Regions from separate parts of the Homo sapiens genome. Here all the other regions are reported to be linked to region 1. Evidence: microRNA targets listed by miRTarBase, many of them from high-throughput screens and not tested one by one. Region 1 holds a microRNA gene; each other region holds the end of a gene's coding sequence.

Region 1 (4,548 bases):
CTGAGCAGGAACTCGTTAAGTGAGGACATCACCAAGCCATTCACAAGGGATCCGCCCCATCACTCAACCACCCCCACCAGGCCCCACCCCCAATACTGGGGATCACACTTCAACATGAGATTGGAGGGGACAAACATCCAAACCATATCAAAGGTATACTCTAGGATCCTAGTTCAAGTAGCACCTGCTTTTGTTGCTTTGCCTTCTAAACTGAACTGACACATATTAGCACAGTTCTGTCTCAGCCATAGAAACCCAGTTTCTCTGGACCATTTTTCCTTATGTAAGAAAATGACCTGTTTAACCATGGAGGGAACTCCTCAGCCAGCTAAGAGAGGAGAGTTCAGAGATAGCTGGTGCAGCTTCTCATCAACAACAGAATTGACTCCCTCGCTGCTCCTTTCCCATCATCTAAGCCAGTCATCGATTTTCCCCAGGAGTGTTTCTAGGTATCCGTCACCAAAACAAAACCCCCACCAAGTCTATGGAATTTCTATAAAGTATAACCATTCATGATATGCTAATAGTGAACCATTTGTTAGTATTATACCACATGCAATTCAGGTCAGTGAAATTCAACTTAGAAACTGGAAGAAGAAAAATCACCTTTGCATTATTGCTTTGCATTTGTTTTCTTAGTTCTTGTCCATGGCCCCAACGGTCACCAATACATTTCCTCTCAGCAGTCAGCATCATGGTGCTCTTCCCCAATCATTATAACCGATTTCAGATGGTGCTAGAAAATTATATTGACTCTGAACACCAAAAGAAATCAGTCATCCTCTAAGGGGTCACAGAAGGTCGTGAGGGTTGGGAGGGCCCAAATCTTACTAAATCCAGCATACATTGGGCTCTTTAACCCAGGCACAATGGAATGAGTCTGTACTATCTATTAAGTGCTATAGGTTTATTCCACAAAGAAGTATAAAATTCCAACAATGCGATATCCTGTACAATTACATTCATCCCTTGGTATCCTTGAGGGATTGGTTCCAGAAAGCCCCTTGGATACCAAAATCCACAGATGCTCAAGTCTCTGATAGAAAATGGTGTAGTATTTGCATACAACCTACACACATCCTCCCGTATACTTTAAATCGTCTCTAGATTACTTAGAATACTTAATGCAATGCAAATGTATGCAAATAATTGTTATGCAGTATTGTTAGAGAATAATGACAAGAAGAAAGTCTGTTCATGTTCAATACAGACACAACTTATTTTTGGAAAACTTTCGATCACAGTTGGATCCGCCAGTGCAGAGACCTGACTGCCATTTGTGATATATGCCACCACTGTTGGCAGGGGTGAGGAAGGGGTCAGCTACATGTGAGGCAGGTTCTCACAGCCATCCTGCTGTTGCTTTCAAATACTTCAGAGCTGTCCCATTCACTTCTTTTGCTGTTGGTAGTGCAGCGCAGCTGGTCTCCCCCAAGAACACTGATTTCAAATGGTGCTAGACAATCACTATTTAAATCTAAACCACCATATGAAACCAGCTTCCTGAAGAAGCTTTATGATCTATTTTTTTCTTCATAATGCTCTCTTACAATAAACCCAAGACAACCTAGAAAGGAAAAGTTGAAACCTAGCTGTGAGTTACTCAGTGGTCTAAACAGAGCTTTGGCAAATTTCATATATTCATAAACTGATGTCACTGAATTTGTTATTGATGGGAGAGCATGCCTGGGACTCCCTTATTCTTAAGTTAAGTTGCCCAGACAAAGGTTCAGCTTCATCATTTAGAGGCAAGGGCACATGTCAGCCCCGTCACTCTTGGGTGGGAAGACAAGGAAAATCCTTTGCTTGGGTAAAGGCAGGAGAAGTCAGAGGCATCCTGTGATCAAGTACCCAGGCAGGCGGAGGACGACTAGCAGTGGTGCTGGAGAACCGTCCGTCGGACATGCAAATAGGACAAAGCAAGCAAGTGCTCCATAGAAGTTGAAGAAAAACGCTTTCCTAAACCTATTATTTTCACTTGGAGATAACTTGGATCCAAAGGATTACTGAGATTTTGGGGTCTAGGGAAGAAAATAGACTAGCTCAGAGGCCAAGTAAGTCACATAATGGCACTAATGAGATGCTAATGTCGCTTCCGGAATGAATTCCTTAGACTGCATCTATGAGTTAGGGGTTTTTGTGAGCTTTACTTAAGACTCTCCTTCCCTCTACTCCAAAGGTAAGGCTTTGTACTCTGAGTTCTCCTTGGCAAATTATTTTTTGCAGCAGTTCTTTTTCGCCGTCATGGTATAGTTCTTGGTATCATCTTATTAGGTGGCCTGTTGTCGTCCCTTTTTGTGTTCTAGGCATCCAAAAAGATACTTCATGTACCCAGGCCACCTAATTAAAGGGGTGTGCACTGTTTTTATAAACTGTTATAAAAAATTTTATACATTAAATTGGAATGACAATACAATGAATTCCTAAATCCATACTATCTAAATTCAATAACTATTCCTTTTTATCATGTTTTGCTTTAATTATATGTAATATAGATACATATTTTTTGCTGCATTGTTTGAAAGTAAATTGATAACCACCCATACATACACTGCTCCTAACTACTTTGAGGTCGTTCTATAAAATGAAGACACTCTTCTACATAACCACAAAATCTTACCATACCTAAGAAAACAAACAATTCCTTGGTACCCACAAATATCCAGCCTACATCCAACTTCTCCCACTTTCTCCAAACAAAAGGTTTTTTATAGGTTTTTCAAACCCAGATCGCATCAAGGTTGATTCACTAAGACTCTTTGGTCTCTTTTAGCCTCAAAACACTACCCAACCTTTTCTTTGGCTTGTTTTATCATGACATACCACCTTGTGAAAACCAGGCTCCAATCCTGGCTGTACCATTCACTTAGTCTGTTCCCTTGGCTTGTATTTAAGAACTGAACTTTAGTTTCTCCGTCTGACTTTCCTCATATATCATCCTCATTTTACAATCTCACTATGTGTATTAGAAGAACATCCAATTACCACGTGCCTGTGGTTGATGATTCCAAGTGGGTTCAGTGCTAATCAGTCAGGAGGTGCACTGCAGGCTGTTTACCTTGGGTCTGATTAGCATAACATTCTTGTTCCTCATGGGCTTGGCCAGTTATCTTTTCATAAGGAGATCCCAGCACAAACTCATCCTTTATCATCATGGAGAAGCATCCACAGCACATACCTATTGCTGCTAGGCTGGTTTTTAAAAAAAATCTCTGTGAATAAGGGAATAGAACACCAGGGCTATGGAGATGCGTGGCAATCATTTCATCAAAGATGTAAACAGCTTGTTGACTGCAGTGAAAGGCACATACTTTGTGAAGTGACAGGCAGTGACACATTTCAAGTGGATAGTAAATTTAAGCACCAAAACTGGGAAAAGTGCCAGGACAGAAGAATCACTGCAACTCTCAAATAATGGTTTCACTAATTCTGTGATTCCTTTAGGGACCCCCTGCATCCTTCTGTATATGCTACTCTAATTCGCAGTATCAGTGACTGAAGTACAAAAGAAGCAGCCAGATTATTCTCATCAGTTACAAAACTCTAAAGTCTGCTTATTTTTGATAAATAACTAGTCACAGTGTTTGCCTACTGCCTAGAAGTTTTTTCAAATGATTGACACTTCAGTTATGGGGAAAATTTTTCCTGAAGAATGAATTTCTTTTACTTATGTCTGATAAGATCATATATATCTCATACACCAAATACATCACACACACTATATATTCAACCATGCCCTTAGCAGGGCCAAACAAATATGCTAAGTTTTTTACATTGTCTTTATGTATGCTTCTCAAAAATTCAGCAGAAGGCTAAGCGTGGTGGCTCATACCTGTAATCCCAGCATTTTGGGAGGCTGAGGCAGGCAGATCACTTGAGGTCAGAAGTTTGAGACCAACCTGGCCAACATGGTGAAACCCCATATCTACTAAAAAAATACAAAAAAAAAAAACCAAACTAGCCAGGCGTGGTGGCACATGCCTGTAGTGAGGCTGAGGCCGAGGCAGGAGAGTTGCTTGAGCCCAGTAGGCGGAGGTTGCACTGAGCTGAGATCGTGCCATTGCACTCCAGCCTGGGTGACAGAGCAAGCCTCTGTTTCAAAAAAATTAGCCGGGTATGGGATGCCTGCAATCCCAGCTACTCAGGAGGCTGAGGCAGGAGAATCACTTGAACCTGGGAGGCAGAGGTTGCAGTGAGCCAAGATCATGCCACTGCACTCCAGCCTGGGCAATACAGCCAGACTCCATCTCAAAAAAAAAAAAAAAAAAAAAAAAAAAAGGCCAGGCACGGTGGCTCACGCCTGTAATCCCAGCACTTTGGGAGGCCAAGGCAGGTGTATCACGAGGTCAGGAGTTCAAGACTAGCCTGGCCAAGAAGGTGAAACCCTCTCTCTACTAATTAATAATACAAAAATTAGCTGGGCGGGAGGCTGAGGCAGGAGAATTGCCTGAACCCGGGTGGCAGAGGTTGCAGTGAGCCAAGATCGCGCCACTGGATTCCAGCCTGGGCAAAAGAGTGAGACTGTCTCCGAAAAAAAAAAAAAAAAAA
Region 2 (4,548 bases), not on the chromosome of region 1:
TGTCATGATAGGCTTGTGGTCAGCTACAGGAGTGTAAAGGATTGCATGCTGTAGTCAGATGCCGGCCTTAGGAGGAGGGCTTCCTTCAGCACAGTGAGGGATGAAAGCTATCCACAGCCCTTGGCTACTTCAGTTCCCCTTATCATGATTCCCCCCCTCCACCCCATAACCTCTGTCTGCCTTTTCCATGGAAGATTTGGCCACCTTTTGCTGAAACTAGGTTTAGTGGTAACAATTTTATACCTTTAATTAGCAGTAAAAAACCTTCTCTCTTGAATTCCTGTAGCTATCCGCTCAGCTTTTATGTGTGTGCCATTTTGGCCTCAGCCTCTGTGACCTGGAGAGATAGATGTACATGTTGGTTGCTGAAAAGCTCTGAGATGCAGAAAAAGCCTGACTTGCCCCACATCTCTGTTTATTTCTGGCAGGCATTCAACTCAGAAACAGACAGTTTCAAGCTGGCCTATGGAGGGCACCAGTATCACGCCAGCTGTGCCAACTTCTGGATCAACTGTGTCGAACCAAAGCCTCCTGGCCTCGTCCTGCCTGACCTGCTCTGAACAACTCCTCTGTGAAGCATTGACTTTTTTTTTTCTGTGACACCCCACGGGGTGACAGGGACCAATAAATAGAATGCGAGCACTGCACAGTTCGCTTCCCTGAATCGATATGAAGAACACCGCAAGGGACGGGGCCCCCGTCATCCCCACGGCCAGTCTGCAGGACTTCAGGTAAAATTGTCCCACCCAAACTGCACGTGGCACCAGAAGCTTGCTCACTTATCTCTACTTAAGATTTTCTGAAATACGGACCACGGCTTTCTTGATCTAAGGAAGAACTTGCTGCTGCAGTATTGAAACTGTGAAGAACTGACATTTGAAGAAAAATAGATTACCGTTGCGGGACTAGAATGGGCGACTGCTTGGAGCCAGTGCTTGTTTTTATCTAGGACACTTACTGTCCTGTGAAGTAGAATACATTTATCTGCATTTAGTTTGTTAATGTCTGAAATGAATAAAAAGAGGAAATTGCGATTAAACTGATGTTCTGCTTTTTATGGAGAAGATTCTGCCCATCTCCCCTGGACAGTAGCAGGCAGGTGAGGGCAGATTTTACCCACTTGGTTGTCACAACTGAACCAGTTCTCTACTCCTTCCCTTCACTTCTGTCCACTCTCAAGACTTTTTCCCAAAACATGCCTGGGCACTCTGCAGCCGTGAAGAATGCTCATTTTGACAGAGGCCCAAATCCTGTGTATTAGGATAATATCCTTCCCCCCGGGAGCCTTCGCTGCAAACCTGTTCTGCCGCATGCAAAGACTGTGACCATGGAGTTTTCTCAGACAAGATTTGGAAAGGCAGTGGAATGAAATCTCTTTGCAGTGGCCTCTCTCCAAATTTCCAAAGATGACTGCATAGGGACCAACACTGCCTGACTTTGCAGTATCTGTGAGAAAAACCTGAAAATTAATTCAGGGTGAAAATGTGGAGCTCTCGGCCTAGTGTAAAGTATCAAGATGTATATTTATGGGATAGATACATGACTTAGAAGAAGTAGAAGAAAATTGTCCAGAAACAGTACTGAATTTTAGATAGAAAAGGCTCATGCTTCCTGGAGTAGGGAATTGTCTTTGCCATTTAATGTGAATGCATAAAATTAGGGGAAAAACCCAAGTGGCTAAGAGCTGTGTTATTCCTGGGAAGAACTACCAATCTAGGGCACACGTCTCTCTGAATTGTTGATTATGCGCTTTATGAAGAGATTTTTCAATCTCGTGTGCTTTACTTTGTGTGGTTTAGACCCTCTGACCTAGACTTTTATTTTTAAACTGAAAAAGTTGGTCTTGTCTATATAATTGCTGCTTTTACATAATTTATTTTCCCCTCTCAGGACAAATTCTGTCTTGCTCCATCTTACAGCTTTTCCATGTTCTCCAAGAAAGGTGTGGAACATTTTCATTAAACAGCTGTTGCTGAGGCTTCTGCTTGACCTTCTGCGTGCCCGAATGCACAGAGAGGCACCGAGGAGAGAAAGGCTTTTCTCACTCGCTCCCGATGATACCGTCTCTGGCCATTCCTGACTGAGGCAGCTCACTCTGAATGGGCACCTTTGGAGCTTTTGCCCACCACAAGGCTAGTGGGGTGTTTCTAACAACACAAGTGGGACAGCTTTTGGCAGGCTTTTCCTGAGGCCTCGGCGCTTCCATCCTGGACAGCACCACTTCCACATGGAGCTGGAATGCAAGCAGGCTGCTAATTGGCCTTAAAAATTCTTTGTTTTTTTTTGAGATGGAGTTTCACTCTTGTTGCCCAGGCTTGAGTGCAATGGCACAATCTCAGCTCAGTGCAACCTCCGCCTCCCGGGTTCAAGCGATTCTCCTGCCTCAGCCTCGTGAGTAGCTGGGATTACAGGCGTGCACCACCACGCCCAGCTAATTTTGTATTTTTAGTAGAGGCAAGGTTTCTCCATGTTGGCCAGGCTTGAACTCCGGACCTCAGGCGATCCGCCCGCCTCAGCCTCCCAAAGTACCGGGATTACAGGCGTGAGCCACTGCGCCTGGCCTAAATTTCATAACAGAACCATGACAGCAGAATCTACCTTTGCAATAAGAATGTTTCCCAGGAGTTAGAGACCAGCCCTGGGCATGATGGTAAAGACCCCAGCTAATTATACAAAAAATAATTAGCCGGGTAGGTGGAGTGCATCTGTGGACATTCGTGGTCCCAGCTACTAGGTAAGCTGAGGCGGGAGATCACAAGTCCAGGAGTTTGAGGCTGCACGTGACAGCGTAGGTGATGACAGAGCGAGACACTGTCTCTTAAAAAAAAAAAAAAAAAAGTTTCCCAGTTTGAATTTGTATTGCTGAAGCATTTTTTTGAAATGCTATATAGATGCCTGTCATGTCACAGTGGCCCAGTATCAACATTTTAAAAAGCTCACTTGGTAGCTGGGCTGGTTTCTATTCCTGAGAAATTCCAGAATGCCTCAGATAAAATTCCTTAGTATAATCCCCATTTTCCTTACCAAGGATGGTAGGCTTAGTCACTCCTTGGGAGGTGCCACAGGAAAATTCAGCAGATGTCAACAGAAAAAAAGCCTTTGCTATGAAAAGTATTCACTACCTTTCATATCTCTTGAATACTTGAAATGTTTAATTAGATGCCACCAATAGGGATCCAAGGAGTGTGGGACACGGTTGCGCTGCTTTTCTTTATAAACGTTTATTAAAATGGCTCAACGCTGCATTCAGCTTCACCTCAGCTCTTCTTGTCAGCCAGGAGCCCCGTGTCCTTGGAAACTGTAGCCAAGGTTACTTATTTCCATACTGTGCATTGTGTCAGCCCGCTTCACCCCACTGCTTGAATGGCCATTAATAAGCACTTTTCTTTTTTTGGTGGGATGTTTTGCCTTTAAAATTTTTATGGCTTAGTGTGTAATTTAATTTTTGTCTGGACATGCTTGAGATAGAAGAGGTACTGGATATATGAGGATATTTTCCATGCTTTATTTTTCCTGTGGCTACTAGTTAGCATTCCATAGGGGTTGTGAATTTTTAATTATTTGAATATTTTGTGTACATATACATATTTGAAGGGTTTTGGGGGGGTCTTATTTGTTTAAAGGTGTCTTCTGTTTGCCTATTTCAAGTGTACTTCAGCTTTGCAAAGATTATAGGGCTGTATGTTACAGAAATAGGAAATGCTGGCCCTGTACTGGGGACCACTACAAAAATTCCCTTTAGCCGGGCGTGGTGGCTCACGCCTGTAATCCCCAGCACTTTGGGAGGCCGAGCCGGGTGGATCACCCGAGGTCAGGAGTTCAAGACCAGCCTGGCCAACATGGCGAGACCCTGTCTCTACTAAAAATACAAAAATTAGCTGGGCATGGTGGCAGGTGCCTGTAATCCGAGCTACTCGGGAGGCTGAGGCAGGAGAATTGCTTGAACCAGAGAGGCGGAGGTTGCAGTGAGCCGAGATCGCGCCACTGCACTCCAGCCTGGGCAACAAGAGCGAAACTCTGTCTCAAAAATAAAAAATTCCCTTTAACACCTTCAAGGTCAAATGCCTGCCTTTGTGAACAGTTAATAAACTGACATTTTCAGACATTTGCCATTCAGAAGGGAGCATTGTAGCCTGCTGTAGACCATTCCAGCAAATGTCAGAATGCAGGGCAAGATGTGTGTCGACTATGTTTTTTATGTTTAAGTTACTTACTTATTTCTTCAGGTAAGTGTGTACCAAATAACAATACTGAAAAGCCCTCCCCTTGCCAGGCCGAGGAAATAAAGCTTAAGTGAAACAGCTCTTGGGGGAAAAATGCCACTTTACAAATACTTTTCTAACAAAATAGCATTATAATGAAGTTTTTACTTAATTCCATTATTTATATGTTGACGTGAATGTAAGTGGTTAAAAAGTATTCATGTGGGACATCTCATTACTTTGTAGCTGTGGCTTTATTAACCAGTGAATGCTGTGGCCCTTAGCGAAATGCGTTGTCTTCTGCGTGATGTGGAATTCGCGCCTGTATTTTAAAAGATGGTGTGGT
Region 3 (4,548 bases), not on the chromosome of region 1:
TGGAGTCAGGGCTAGATGCAGGCCTGCCAGCTCCAGGTCTAGTGGTTTTTTCCCCTGGAACTATTGCCACCTTTTCACCCATGGCTGACTTGTGCCCACAGTTAGAGAAGCAGCTCCTGGCAGTTGGGGTTTTCCTGGAAGTGCTGACCTCATCCCTAGTTGTCAGGTGCCCATCAGCCTGGACCTGGGGCAGGGAAGACTGTTCTGACTGTACCACCAATCTCTCTCTGCTCTGTGTCTCACCCTCATGGCTGTCGGTAGGTCATGAGTATGCAGAGGAGAACCTGGGCTTTGCAGGTGTGGTGGAGCCCGAGAACCTGGCCCGGGAGAGGAAGATGCAGTGGGTGCAGCGGCAGCGGCTGGAGCGCAAGGGCACGGTGAGGGACTCGGGGTCCAGGAGGAGCTGTGTGGGCAGGCACTCAGCCCCAACGGGAACCCATCCATGCTGACCCCAGGCCTGCGAGCACCTCCCCAAAACTCTGACCTCTTTGGCCCATGGGCCCTCAAGTCAGAACTCCTGAACTCCAGGATGGGGCAGGGGTCGGGTCAGGCTTCTCTGTCTTGGGTCCATTTCCCAGCTTCTCTCCACCAAACCTGGTTCCTCTCACCCACAGTGCCCATCTACCCTGGGAGAGGAGCGCTCCTACAACCCGTTCCTGAGAACCCACTGCCTGGCGCTACAGGAGGCTCTGGGGCCGGGGCCGGGCCCCACTGGGGATGATGACTACTCCCGGGCCCAGCTCCTGGAAGAGCTCCGCCGGCTGAAGGATATGCACAAGAGCAAGTGATGCCCCCAGCGCCCCCAGCCCAGCCCACTCCCCGCATGGGGAGGCCGCCACCACCAACACCTCATCATCCTTCTCATCGCTAACACCACCACCTCCATCGGCACCCAAGCGGGCATCATCCCCCCACACTGCTCAGGGGAGGGGAGGGATCAGGCGATGAGACTGTGAGGCCAAAAGAAGGGGGCCTGTTGGAGGCTGGGAACCCCGCAGCGCGAGGCTGCCTCATCAACGGCAAGAGGAAAGGAGGGGTCTCGGGACATCTCCAGACCCTACCAACTGGGAGGGTCCCCTCCTCCTTCCCTACTCCTGGGACGGCAGCAAGGACATGGGGGCTGCTGTTAGCTTCTCCGTCAGGAGGCCTCATCTCACTGTAGCCCTGGAACCCAGGGTCCATCTTGCCCTTCCCCCATCCATGGTTGGGAAAGAAGCTCAGCCCCTCACAGTGGCCTCAAGTGTGATGCCTTACAAAAGCACCACTCAGATGGGCAGCTGGACTCTGGTGTCCTGAGACTCTGCCCTCTTCCCACAGCCTCCCTGCCCCACCCATCCCTGCAAAGCCATTTTTCAGACAGAGCCATTCCTAAGAACACTGAAGGGCTGGAATGCTGGCTGGCCACTCTCTGCCTCAGTGGCCTCCCTACAGCCTGGAAGAAGGAGGGTCCTGATTGCCAAGGAAACCTCCTCATTGGGCTAAGGAGACACTGGAGTCTGGAGTGTGGAGCCCCACAGTCTTGCAGGTCACATGCTCTCCTTGCACATCTGGCCTGGTTGTACCCACTGGCCTCTGCCTCTGCCCTGGGCCAAAAGGGCCCCTCCTTGCCAGGGGAGAGACAGCCACGGTCCTCTTTGGCCGATGCTGTATTCTCATTTTGGCCCTTGTTCTTAGGCCCGTCTGCCCGCCTTCCTCCATCTAACCTTTCCTGTTTTATCCGCAGCCCTTTTCTTCTTTGAGTTAGTAAAGATTTATTCTGTAACCTGACACTCATCTGGCCCTTTGCAGTTTGCCAGCCATATTCCCATGTGATTTCCCACTGGATCCAGGCCCCCATCCGGCTGGCAGGAGGGGGCTCTGACGTGCAGGTTGGAAATCAGAAGTCTGTGAGAGCGCGGGAGTGCATGGCAGCTCTGGGTCCCAGACCTGGCCCGACCCCTCTGCTTCACCTCCAGCTCTGCTGCTCCTCTACTCTTGGGTCGAGATCCCTTTGGAGCCACAGCGAGGAACCCTGTGGTCCTCAGGCAGGTGTACCTTGAGTCAGCCAGGAGCCCTCTTTTCCTGTGTCAAAGCCTGCCCTCGGGCTCTGCTCACCTCTGGTGACCCTCCAAGATGCCCCTGCCCTCAGTTTCCCCTCATGATCTGGCCTCTGCCCCCTTCTCTAGCCACAGCCTCTAGTACACTTTAGCAATACCACCAGACTAGTTAGAGTTCCCCACTCACCAAGCAAGACATGCAGTTTCATGCCTCTGTGCCTTCGCTCATGCTGTTTCTTCCGACTGGAATGCCTTCCCCTGCTCCTCCTGCCTTGTCTGCCTGGCAAGTTCATCTCTCACGATCCCCTCAAAGGCCCCCTCCTCCAGGAAGGCAACCCCTGTGCCCCTCCCCTCCAGGCTACCTCTGCACTTTGTCAATGCTTCTCTTGTGGCACTTATCACACTGTATTTTACTTGTTTACATGTTTGTCTCCCCTTCTAGACTGTGAATCCTTAAGGGCATGGACTGTATCTTATGCATCTCTGTATTTCTGCGCCTAGCACGGTGCCTAGCACACAGTAGGCGCTCAATAAATGTTGAATGAATGAATGATTTAATCAAGACTTGATCACCCAACAGCTTGTCTTTGTTGCTACATGAGTGAAAACAGCAGAGAACTTTCTCACAGTTTTCCCATCTCAGTTCCAGGCCTGCTAACTTGCAGTTAGGCACTTCAAGAGTTTTGATCAGAAATGATGCCCAAAGGCTGGGCGCAGTGGCTCACACCTATAATCCCAGCTCTTTAGGAGGCTGAGGCGGGTGGATCACAAGGTCAGGAGTTCGAGACCAGTCTGGCCAACATAGTGAAACCTCATCTGTACTACAAATACAAAAAATTAGCCAGACATAGTGGCAGGAGCCTATAATCCCAGCTACTCAGGAGGCTGAGGCAGGAGAATCACGTGAACCCAGGAGGCGGAGGTTGCAGTGAGCCGAGATCGCACCACTGCACTCCAGCCTGGGCGACAGAATGAGACTCTGTCTCAAAAAAAAAAAAAATTTTTTTAAAAAGAGAGAGAGAAATGATGCCTAAAATATGTTCTTCCCAAGGCCCATGGGCATTTGTTCAGGGTTTACGATTTGCTTATCTCAATGTTTCCCAAAGCTTGAGATACACAAGTGTACCACTGGCCAAAGTAGGGTGGCTGTACATGGCCACAGCACAGCAATCAATTGGACTTCAAGGACACGGTCTTGGCACTAGTCTGTCTTTAATGTCTTTGGAAAGAAAGACCCGGGATCCAGGTTCATACTTTAGTTGGGAAATGTCTGTAGTTAAGCTTTAACAACATCGTTTTGTTTTCATTATATTTATATTTGGGTTCAATATTTATTTTTGACAAGTGACACTGGTTTTCAGTTCATAAAAATGATTAAAGGGCCGGGCGTGGTGGCTCACGCCTGTAATCCCAGCACTTTGGGAGGCTGAGGCAGGCGGATCACGAGGTCAGGAGATCACGACCATCCTGGCCAACATGGTGAAACCCCGTCTCTACTAAAAATACAAAACTTAGCAAGGCATGATGGTGAGCGCCTGTAATCCCAGCTACCCAGGAGACTGAGGCACGAGAATCGCTGAACCCGGGAGGCAGAGGTTGAAGTAGGCCAAGATCGCACCACTGTACTCCAGCCTGGGCAACAGAGGGAGATTCTGTCCCAAAAAAAAAAAAGATGAAATTTGGGTGGGGACAAAAAGCCACACCATATCATTATAATAGAACAACTTATATTCCTTTGGGTATATAACCAGTAATGGGATTGCTGGGTCGAATGGTAGTTCTGTCTTTAGGTCTTTGAGGAAACACCACACTGTCTTCCACTTTGGTTGAACAAATTTACACTCCCGCCAACAGTGTATAAGCGTTCCTTTTACTCTACAACCTTTCCAGCGTCTGTTATTTTTTGACTTTTTAATAACAGCCATTCTGACTTGTGTGAGATGGTATCTCATTGTGGTTTTGATTTGCATTTCTCTAATGATGAGTGATGTTGAGCTTTTATTCATATGTTTGTTGTCCACATGTATGTCTTCTTTTATTTATTTATTTATTTATTTTTAATTGATCATTCTTGGGTGTTTCTCGCAGAGGGGGATTTGGCAGGGTTATAGGACAATAGTGGAGGGAAGGTCAGCAGATAAACAAGTGAACAAAGGTCTCTGGTTTTCCTAGGCAGAGGACCCTGCGGCCTTCCGCAGTGTTTGTGTCCCTGGGTACTTGAGATTAGGGAGTGGTGATGACTCTTAACGAGCATGCTGCCTTCGAGCATCTGTTTAACAAAGCACATCTTGCACCGCCCTTAATCCATTTAACCCTGAGTGGACACAGCACATGTTTCAGAGAGCACAGGGTTGGGGGTAAGGTCATAGATCAACAGCATCCCAAGGCAGAAGAATTTTTCTTAGTACGGAACAAAATGGAGTCTCCTATGTCTACTTCTTTCTACACAGACACAGCAACAATCTGATTTCTCTATCTTTTCCCCGCATTTCCCCCTTTTCTATTCCACAAA
Region 4 (4,548 bases), not on the chromosome of region 1:
CCCTAAAAAATAACATAATGAACAAAAAGATAATAACTTAAAACAATAGCCAAAAAAATTAGTCACTGGATGGTTTGGGTCTCTATAAAAACTAAAAAGAGCATCTTATAACATACGTCCCTAAGTTGTTTTTCAAAAAACCAGACCCGCCACCAAGTGGATCCACTGACACATAAACCTCTAGTAAGGGGGAAATGAAGATTAAATGCTGCCACTCCTTGCTCTGAATTTCTTCCTGAAGGGTCTAAAAGAAGTCATACCCAAGAGCCAGGGCCAACATTCTTTTCTGATGACCCCAAAATTTTAAATAAAGCTTCTCTTCCTTAACCAATTACAAATCAAAAAAATCTTTAAATCTGTTACCTATAAGCCCCCACTTCAAGATATCCCACCCTTTTAGGCCAAACCAATGTATTATAGAACCTCCATGTATTAATTTACAATTTTGCCTATAACTCTTGCTTAAAATGTACCCCTGCATTTAAAAACCCTTCCTTATGAGCCATTGAAGAGGTCAGGTCCTAAGCATAAACTGCCCAATTCTCCTTGCTTCAAGGTGCCTACAAATAAATGCCCCCCTTTCTCCTGCTGAAAACCTTGGTATGGATGTTTGGCCTTACCATGCTGGGCAAGCAGACCCCAGTTCAGTTTAATAACATTGTTGAGATTTTTCATTAATTCATTAGTATTGGTATTTATTATAACTTCTAGTTTCCCTCCATGCAAATTTGACCATGCCTTATATTGTCACCTAAGTCGTTAATGAACATGGTGGCATGTCATTTGCAGTTTCTCTCCAGTCTACATCAGTCTGTCAACATGCATTCTTTGAGTTCGGTCATTCTACCGGCTGAAGAACCAGCCACACTTTCCCATTCAATCCATAAGCATATCACAGCAGTCTTCCTCACAGACTCTGCTAAAACCCAGATACATAAAATGTAAGATAGTCCTCAGAACCACCAGTCTAGTACCAAGCAAAAAGAGTGTATCTCCTAAAAGATTGAAGTGGAAGTTATTATAGAATCAAGGATATCCTGATCAAAGAATCAAAGAATCTATCTGGATTCTAGAATGAATCCAAGGGTGAGAAGGCAGCTGGCCTTTTTGCTTGGAAAAAAAGAGTAAGTATCCTAAGGAACATCACTTCAAAGAACACACAGATGGCTGGAATCATGCCAGCACTAACATGCCCAAGTGGTTTCCAGAATCCACCTTTTGCCCACTTAAAAAATTCAGTTCATTTGGTCATTTTCTTCTGAGAATGCCTCAAAATTCTAATTTGCAGTTTCATAGCATAGCCATTAGTATAGGGACTATGGGCCTGGAGATGCAGTTCATTTCTAGTCCCCCCTTACTCATATCCTCACCCAATATCTTGGCCATTAACTCCTTTCCTACCCTGTTCAGTATTATGTTGGAGTATATATTCTTTCAATATGAACTATAGTATTATAATACTATTAGCTTTACAACACCACAGCAGGAACATTCCTCCTGTTCTTGCTCTGAATGATTTTGAAAAGCCTGTTTATTGTGGATTAGACTTCGTGACACTACTTGTAATTCAGCAACAAATTTTTATATTCATTTCTGTTTGCTTTATACTTTCTTCCTATGAAAATGGCTAGAAAGCAGTAATGCTAAATTAAAAGAAAGATGGAATGGTGGTCGATCAGGTCAAAATTTTTTGTATGTGCATTTAACAGAAAAACCCAAGCTGGTGTAAATATTAAAGTGGAAACTATAACAGAATCAAGGCTATCTCCTAGAACGAATCCAAGGGTAAGAAGGCAGCTGGCCTGAGGATAGAACTGAAAACTGGAAATCTCTGGGACTTCAGAGAGAACTCTCCTTCGCTCATCTTTACTTCTCTTAATGCAGACACCTCACTTTTTTTTTTTTTTTCAACAGAACGGGTTAACTGCTAGTTGGCCTCATTGTTCTGAAGTTCTGGCCCTACATGAACTATTTCAAGTCTGAAATTCCCAGGGAAGGCGGGAGGAAACTCCTGATTGGCCCAGGTTGGTTCAGGAGCAGACTCCCTCCTCGATCAACTGTGATCATGCAGGAGCAGCAGAGTCTCAGTGCATAAAACAGGTACCAGGACCCCACTGCTAAGGTGAGGATGGGAGGTAAGAGAATAGGAGCTTTTAAAAAGAGACCCCAAAAGATGTTTTTATACAGGGGCTTTGATGGGCTGAAGGCCTGGAAGACAGAAACACTGCCAATGTCTTTTTTCTTTCTAAAATAAACTTATGCTTGGCTGGGTGCAGTGGCTCACACCTGTAATCCCAGCACTTTGGGAGGCCGAGGCGGGCGAATTACGAGGTCAAGAGATCGAGACCATCTTGGCCAACATGGTGAAACCCTGTCTCTACTAAAAATACAAAAATTAGCTGGAGGTGGTGGCAGGCACCTGTAGTCCCAGCTACTCGGGAGGCTGAGGCAGGAGAATCGCTTGAACCTGGGAGGTGGAGGTAGCAGTGAGCAGAGATCATGCCACTGGACTCCAGCCTGGAGACAGAGTGAGACTCCGTCTCAAAAGAAAAAAAAAAAACAAACCTTATGCTTAATGTTTGTTGTTACTCTGAACTACAGCAACTGTGTTCTTCTGAAGGAAAATCTCTGAGCAAGGAGCAGCTTACTAGTGATCTTGAACATGCTATTTAATCTCTAGATACAAAGTGGTGATGACAATATCAATAATAACTACCTTGCAGTTCCCTGAGAGAATCAGAGATAACATATCCAAAGTGTTTAGCACCATACTTAGCATACAGTAGCAGAGTAAAAACTCAGCAAATGGAAGCTATGATTTTAAAAGCTAAACAAAACTATACAATATCAGCTGGTTTTTTTTTCCCTTAGGGAGACTTATTTCCTCCACGGCTATTTAGTAGACACTGGAGCCACAGTCCAGTGAGCTAATTTAAGAGAGAAACTCGGAGCACAGAATGCTCAGTTCCACAGAATTCCAACACACAAGTCTAACTTATTACTGTATCTCAGTTACCTCTACCATTACCTATAAATGGCATAAAGTAAAAATTAAGCATGTGAAACAGTTAACCTCAATTATAAAAATAAAATGCATTTAAATTATACACATGGAGTATACAATATATTTACTTATTGCATACAAATTCTGCTCAACTAGAAAGTTTTGTGTACAGTAGAAACAGTGGTAAGAATTTCTAATAAGTCCCAATTTTATTTCTTTGATCCTAAGCCTCTACTTGTTTCCCTCCCACAATTGGGCTGGGTGTTACTAACCCATGTGCACATTAATTACAGCATTTATTTTTCCCTAAAAAGTTGTTATTAAGCTAACAGTATATCATCTAAAAAGTACTGTTAACTTAAATTCAAGAACATATAATAAATAGTGGAGATGAGTAAACAAACAAAAAAAAAGTTTTTTACTTTATCAATCAGCAGTATGTCCTTTATTCCATACGTACTACTTGCCCAGTCTTATATTACTTGTGATCTTGAAATGGAAACCATGTCCTGTTATTGAACAAGCTCTTCTCTATTTTTTCATCAGAAAGCCACAAATATAGATAAAGCATTTTTTTATTTGCCTTGGAGCAATATATTTTGAATTAAGCCCAGCCTCCCATGTTTCAGTTTAGGTAGCTAAGATACATGCTGGTGAAAAGTAAAAAACTAAATTATTTGTCTTTCTGCCTACCACATAACTATTTTAAATAATTTTCTTAGGTGCTTAGTTATCATGGTCATGACATCATAAAGAGTCCCACTTTGTCTTTCCTTTAATAATAAGCAACCTCTGTTTATACGTATTTGAAAAACTGCCTCATGTGATATTGACAGAGCTATAGTATTAAATACAAAGATGAATAAATGGTGTGAGTGAAAAATAGTGTATTCGACTCCAAGCTAGCTCAAAGGCTTACACGTCCATTTCAACATTGGGAACAATTCACTATAGAATGTGAAAGGAAAATGACAGACCAATATACAAATTTTTGTAGGAATAATTTTGCATATATACCACAAGATCATTATCACATATTAAAAATAAATACACTGTTTGTTAGGTAATTCTGAAATTGTCATTTCTATTTTGGAGTTACAAATAATAAGCCCTGAGACAGAAGACACTGGTCCTCACACAGCAGCTGCCATTGCTCTGTTCTCAGTTGCGGTGCTTTATATAGAACAATAGGTATACAAAAGCGTTTGAGCCATTCCGGTATTCCCACTGCTCTGATAGATGAGAGACAAGTTGTAGGCAATATCTCTTCGTAAGTCTAACTGGTCAAGTTCTATACCCTAGGGAGAAAAAGATACCTTTATGTTTAATATTTCCAACTGTCAACCGGGACAATTTTATGGCAAATTAATAGTTTTATAAGTGTAAGTAAGTTTTCAAAAGGTATTAAAGCTCATGTACTAAAAAAAAATTATAAAACTATGCATATACCTTGGATCAATGCTGATTCAGTTAACAGCATCATCAAATATTTTAACAGTAATTTAAAGTCTCACCCACAAGCTACGGCAGAATAAACGCCAGAT

Evidence for each region. Region 1 holds the annotated microRNA hsa-miR-29b-1-5p (GCUGGUUUCAUAUGGUGGUUUAGA, at 1,477-1,500, opposite strand). A microRNA usually pairs through its seed, bases 2 to 8, with sites in the 3' UTR of a target mRNA and lowers its output. Matches are read on the target gene's strand: a 7mer-m8 pairs with bases 2 to 8, a 7mer-A1 pairs with bases 2 to 7 and ends in A, and an 8mer does both.
Region 2: the mRNA of SYNRG is a reported target of hsa-miR-29b-1-5p. Seed matches in the 3' UTR shown: 7mer-A1 at 3,944-3,950.
Region 3: miRTarBase lists PNKD as a target of hsa-miR-29b-1-5p. The part of its 3' UTR that is shown has no 7-base or 8-base seed match.
Region 4: miRTarBase lists GTF3C3 as a target of hsa-miR-29b-1-5p. Seed matches in the 3' UTR shown: 7mer-m8 at 2,852-2,858.

Annotation. Positions count from the first base shown.
Region 1 is chr7:130,876,031-130,880,578 of GRCh38, forward strand. MIR29B1 (microRNA 29b-1) reads right to left here and starts at 1,509; the gene lies at 1,429-1,509. It overlaps MIR29A (microRNA 29a), which reads right to left and starts at 780; the gene lies at 717-780. It also overlaps a transcript of LINC-PINT not described here.
Region 2 is chr17:37,514,952-37,519,499 of GRCh38, reverse strand. SYNRG (synergin gamma) reads left to right here. Exons shown (of 22, transcript NM_007247.6): 22 at 429-4,548. The coding sequence ends at 560. Among named protein-coding and RNA genes, the nearest start is that of DUSP14, 27 kb to the right of the region's middle.
Region 3 is chr2:218,344,194-218,348,741 of GRCh38, forward strand. PNKD (PNKD metallo-beta-lactamase domain containing) reads left to right here. Exons shown (of 10, transcript NM_015488.5): 9 at 262-377; 10 at 615-2,600. The coding sequence ends at 788. All of the region lies in intron 2 of CATIP-AS2 (CATIP antisense RNA 2), which reads right to left. Among named protein-coding and RNA genes, the nearest start is that of MIR6810, 4.6 kb to the left of the region's middle.
Region 4 is chr2:196,760,384-196,764,931 of GRCh38, forward strand. It overlaps GTF3C3 (general transcription factor IIIC subunit 3), which reads right to left. Exons shown (of 18, transcript NM_012086.5): 18 at 2,652-4,302. The coding sequence ends at 4,180. Among named protein-coding and RNA genes, the nearest start is that of GTF3C3, 37 kb to the right of the region's middle.